Regions from separate parts of the Homo sapiens genome. Here region 1 is linked to region 2. Evidence: fine-mapped expression QTL. A gene starts in region 2. The other region holds a variant in brackets. All regions are shown on one strand. Distances are between the middles of the regions.

Region 1 (2,998 bases), 40 kb before region 2:
CTCAACAACCAACTTTCACCTTCTGAGGACTGCTAATGTGAAGTCCCTCTAGACTAAGCCCATGAAATACTTGCCCCTTCCCTCCCCACCACTGCCACGCTCCGTCTCCAGCTGGTCATCTACCAGCATCCTAGCTGGATTCCCTCTCCGTCACTCCAGCACAGGGGTTCTCAACCTCTGCATTTGGGGCTGGATATTTCTTAGTTGTGCAAGGCTGTCCTGTGCATTGTAGGATACTGAGCAGCATCCCTGGCCTCTGCCTTTGGATGCTAGTAGCACTACCTCACCCAGTTGTGACAACCAAAAATGTCTTCAGACATTGCCAGCATCCCCTAATTGAGGCCCACTACTTTGGTGCTTTAGTCCCTAGTTTGTCTACTCCCACAAGCAATATGTGCAATTACAGTGACTAATTTTTCCTCCCCAGAGAGATGGCACCCCTGGGCTAGAGGGATGCTAGGAAGGAAAAGTCCTTGTCCTTTTGGCATCCTCTCACCCCACGAGCTACTTCTGTGTCTTTTCTTTATGTAACACTGAACTCTCCAGCTCAGGCCTCCAGGTCCTAAGTTCATAATCTCATTACAACTAATCCTGTTTACGGCCATTCTCTTGGCAGAACAATCTTGTCTGGACCAAGGCTCTTTCCTCACCACCCAATGTTCTTGTTGCTCCATTGTTCCTGGGGACTGTGGCCTGGCTGAGTATAAGCTTTCATTGATAGGGTTTATCCTGTTTACAGGGAGTCTGCAGAAGGGCCTCATCAAATACTTCCATCCCTTCCTTCAATAAATGGCTCCCTTTGATCTGTGCAAGGCACAACTTTGTTTATCAGAAGCTGGGCTTCCTCTAGCTGATGATGGGGACATCCTGTCCCAGAAAGGCTCCCCAAAATAACACCTTCTGAATTTCAGAATATTTTCAGGTTCCTCTATTTTGGAAGCATTTTTTTTTTTTCTTGCATGCCATTTCTTATGGCAAGCAAAGAAAGGAGCTGATTTTGCATTTTGAAGCCCAAGGTAACACAAAGTTGAACAGGTCACCGCCAAAAATGAGGAAAGGACAGTGTTGATAATAATATAAACATTTGGAACCAGAACAATATACAAGATTAGGGTTGACCAGGTGTGATCGTTTTTCATATTGTCAATTTAAAACTGGAAGTTATCTAACAAGGTGAAAAAGAGGTCATGGGTGTTAGTCATCTATATGACAGGATGGTAGAAGCTAGCTGAATTATGTGGATGAATGGTAAGGGCGATTTTACACTGTCCGAGCCAGGTAAAGAGCTCTATTTACAGCAATGGTTCTCAAAGTGTGGTCTCTAGTCCAGCAGCATGACCTGGAAATGTTTTAGAAATGTAACTTCTCAAGCCCCATCCCAGATAGTGAATTGGAAACTCTGGAGGTGGGGCCCAGGCACCTGTAAGCTCACAAGCCCTTTAAGTGATGTGATTCTCATGCTTGCTAAAGTTTGAGAACCTCTGATCTGCCCCAATAATC[T/C]TCAAACTTCGGTGTACACAAGAATCACATAAGAAGCTAAAATGCAGATTCCCAGATCCCATACCTAACGATGCAGATTCACTTGGTCTAGAGTGGACCCAGGAAAGTTTGCATTGCTAATAAGCAGCCCAGGGTGATTTGGGTGCAACTGGTCCATGAATCAAGCTTCGAGGAGCATTGGCCTATATATAAAGGAGTGGTACAAATTGTCCATATTGCTCCAGTCTTATTCTAAAGAGGCTCCCTCCGTGGCTAAGAATGAGCCAGTATCACAATTCATCTTCCCTTCCCAGTCATCTCATGAAGCAGGCTGCTAAGATTACCTATTGTGGGCCGGGCGCGGTGGCTCACGCCTGTCATCCCAGCACTTTGGGAGGCCGAGGCAGGTGGATCACGAGGTCAGGAGATCGAGACCATCCTGGCTAACACGGTGAAACCCCGTCTCTACTGAAAAAATGCAAAAAAATTAGCCGGGCGCGGTGGCGGGCGCCTTGTAGTCCCAGCTACTCGGGAGGCTGAGGCAGGAGAATGGCAGGAACCCGGGAGGCGGAGCTTGCAGTGAGCCGAGATCGAGCCGCTGCACTCCAGCTTGGGAGACAGAGCGAGACTCTGTTTCAAAAAAAAAAAAAAAAAAAAAAAGACCTATTGTGGTTTTCAGGATTACTCTAATACTAGAAGGTTAGATTGGCCCCATGGATTCCTTTCACACTGACATCTGAAACACACTGCTGACTCCTAACCTGGGTTGGACTCATGCTGCTGGCCTGGAGGCAAAAGCTTTTTATCCCATTACTAGTTCCTTGAACCACAATCCAAGACACAATTTGGTTTTCCCAAGAGTTTTGTTTTGCACTGCTGATGCATTCCAGTCATTGTTGTGATGCATTTCCTTCTCCTCTTTCCCTCCAGTCCCTGGGCAATGCCACACATGTATATATAGCCTCCTAGTGTGAACTTACTCAAATCCTAACCCTCTCTCCCAGAACGTGTCTCTGCTGCAAGGCACCGGGCCCTTTCGCTCTGCAGAACTGCACTTGCAAGACCATTATCAACTCCTAATCCCAGCTCAGAAAGGGAGCCTCTGCGACTCATTCATCGCCCTCCAGGTACAGCACTGCTGGGGTTTGCTTCCTTCCTTCCTGGCTTTGTGTCCCATGTCCCCTTAGACCTGTCCCCCCTTTAGATTTCTTTTCACTCTGCTTTAATACCAGTTGTGAGGGTCTCTCAGGGCTCTGACCTTACCTCTTTGTCCTACAAAAGTGTATTTCTTGTGTGGTTTCCTGTGACCTGTACTTACCCAGACTTTCTCCAGTCAATCCTTGGCATCCTACAGAGATGGTCTTCCTCAGTCTTCAGTCTCTGTAACGATACCAGCCCTTGTTTAGAGACCCAGAGTAGAAATGGTCACTGTATACAGTTGTACAGTTTCTGCACCGCACAGACACCTGAGGAAGAGAGCAAGTGGTTAGGAAAATCCAGCTTGCACACTGCTCACCAA
Region 2 (2,500 bases):
TCTGATTTGAAAAGAAATTAAAATATTTTTTGTGGGCCTCTAAAAATATTGTGGACCTTAGGCACTGTGCCTAATGGAAAAGACAGTGACAGGATTGTGCAATATGAATAATGATAAATTTCCCAAACCATCAAGGACTCAAGAATAAGGGTAAACATCTTAAATGGGGTTGGTTTCGAGTACTTATAATAGAAAAATGTTATCCAAACAAGGTCTTAGGGGTAACAGGAGGCGTTTTTAGTGTTCAAAATACGCACATGGATGGAGTTGGCCATTAGGACGCTAATAGCGACCGTATCTAGCTGTGAAATACATATTTTTGTTTTGGGAGTCTACTTTTCAGTAAATGTCCTTTCAGGTGTTTTGTTGCCCATTTAATTACATGATCAACAAGGAAGAGTTATTTTACAAAACAAGCTTCATTTTGCCAATTTATAAATTGCTTTGGAGTTTCATCGAAAGGTCTTTAAAAAACACGTTGGCCTTGGTGCTGGTGCATCACATAAATCACAGATGAAACAAACAAGCCTGTTTCCTACTCAAGGTGTGTCTGTAGAGTCCTGACTGCGTGCCAGGGGCTCTGTCTGGCACATTTCTGAACTTTGCAAAATTAATTGTGCCGAAGAGAACACCATCAAACGCGTCCGGCATACAGCGTAAACATCTTCAGACCGTGATTCTGCGCCATCAAACGCTCTCCAGCTAATTTCATTTGGTGATTACTCTGCTAGAAAACCGAGGCCAAGTGAAACTGCGGAAATGGGAACAATGTACGGAGGAAAAATCTCACCCCATTAAGAGATCCGTTTCTTCTCCGCACAAATAAGCCCACCCCGCCTCCGAGGCAAGACTAGATGGCTCCAGGATACTCTCGGCGCGCCCGCTGGCCATCTCGGGCAGGGGAGCCCCACACCCGGCAGGAGGACCAGGACGCGAGCGGCGGCGCCTCGGCCCTGGGCTGTTTAGGTAATTCGCAAAGTCCCAACAATCATCCCCCTCTCCCAGAAGCTGGTTTTCTTGTGTGCAGTGGTTACAGAGGCGGCGAAAACACGGTTCCCCGCTTTCCTCTCCTCAAGGCACTGTTTGCAGCGGCAGCAGCGGCCGCATTCGGGGAGGCGCGGTCCTCCCCGCAGAGCCGTCGCGCACTCGGCCTTTCTCGAGGATTTGCCTGGGCTCGGCCGCCTCGCTCTCCCCTGCGCTTCCATGACCTTCTGAGAGCGGCCTCACCACCGGAGGCTCGGAGGAAGCACCACCCTCGGCGTCCGGGGCCCGTCGCGCGGCCGCGTTCCTCCGACTCCTTGGAGCACCCGCGCGCGCGGGCGCGCGGCCGGGGATCGGCGGGGGCGCGCGGGTTGGGGCGGGGCCGGGGCCGGGGGCAGGGGCGGGTCAGGGGCGGGGCCGGGCCCGCTGCGCCCCCAGCCGAGCGGCGTGCAGGCGCCGCCCCCGCGCGCCGCAGTCCCGGCTGGAGCGACTCGGCCGTGGCGGTGGCCGTTACCGTTGCCTCTGGGAGGCTCTGGCGGCGGCGGCGGCCCGCGGGGTTCGCGGAGCGCAGCGGGCCGCCCTTCGCCCGTGGCCGCCTCAAGCAGCCTCGCGCCGACACAGGGGAGGCGAGACGGCGGCTGCGGAGGCGGCGGCGCATTGTGCCCGGCCCCCTCCTTGGCGGCTCCTGCCCCCGGGCGGCTGTGGGATCTGGGCAGCCCCGGGGCGGCGGCCGAGGCTACAGAGCCGGCGGCAGGGGATGGCAAGATAGCGGCGCGGGAGCGTACCGTGAGTCCTGGGGGCGGGTGGGCGCGGCGCGGAGCAGGGGAGCCGCGGAGCCCCGAGCGGGGTCCCCAGGGGCGGCCCGGGCGGGGTGGGGCAGCGCTCCCAGCTCTGCGGAGCGTCCTAGGGGAGTGACCCCGGAGAGCGCCGCTCCGGGTCCCGCCGCTCTCCGCGCGCCCTTGGGTCACCCTCGTGTCCTGGGGGACGCGGACTCCAGCGCCCAGAACTTCTGCCCCACGCAGGGCAGTGAGTTCTGAGGCCAGAGGTTACCTGGGGGATGGGAGGGAGCTTGAAATGTTTTTCCTTCGGAGAGGTGACCTGCCAGGTGATTTCGTGCCCCTCTGCTTCAACTCCCCTTTAAACCTGTTCCTCGTCCTTTCTGTATCCGTAGTGCATTTGACTTACCTGTATTTTTATGTGCTAACTTCCGAAGGTGGTGTACTGGTTAAACCCAAAGTTAAAGTGTTGGAGGTCAAAGTTAGGCTTTGTGAAAGATGCCATTTCTGTTATGTTGTGTAAAAGCACAAAGCTGGATTCAGGAGTTCTGAGCGACACAAAACTGCACATCACGTGTTCTGAATTTACATGATTAATCTGAATTAATGTGATTTTTGCCCCCCACCCCCCACATTCCGCTACCAAAAATATATGAGGTCTTTTATTTGCAGTTGGGTATCTTTGTGTTCCTTTTTGAATGTTTAATGCAGTCAAATATTGTTATAACCTGTATTGTTATTGA

Direction of the effects. Alleles are on the strand shown, and positions count from the first base shown. SD is a standard deviation of normalised expression in the study named.
As copies of T replace C in region 1, the expression in tibial artery of the gene that starts at base 1,315 in region 2 goes down (small effect, 0.12 SD a copy in GTEx).

Evidence for each region.
Region 1: its variant is fine-mapped to the expression of LIFR-AS1 in tibial artery (GTEx, PIP 0.93).

What each region holds. Positions count from the first base shown.
Region 1 is chr5:38,594,869-38,597,866 of GRCh38, reverse strand. It overlaps LIFR-AS1 (LIFR antisense RNA 1), which reads right to left. Exons shown (of 9, transcript NR_103554.1): 2 at 2,798-2,945. It also overlaps a transcript of LIFR not described here. Among named protein-coding and RNA genes, the nearest start is that of MIR3650, 39 kb to the right of the region's middle. The variant T/C (reference allele first, on the strand shown) is at 1,501.
Region 2 is chr5:38,555,601-38,558,100 of GRCh38, reverse strand. It overlaps LIFR-AS1 (LIFR antisense RNA 1), which reads right to left and starts at 1,315. Exons shown (of 9, transcript NR_103554.1): 1 at 1-1,315. LIFR (LIF receptor subunit alpha) reads left to right here and starts at 1,455. Exons shown (of 20, transcript NM_001127671.2): 1 at 1,455-1,767. MIR3650 (microRNA 3650) reads left to right here and starts at 540; the gene lies at 540-599. RefSeq lists enhancers at 1,069-1,178, 531-1,314.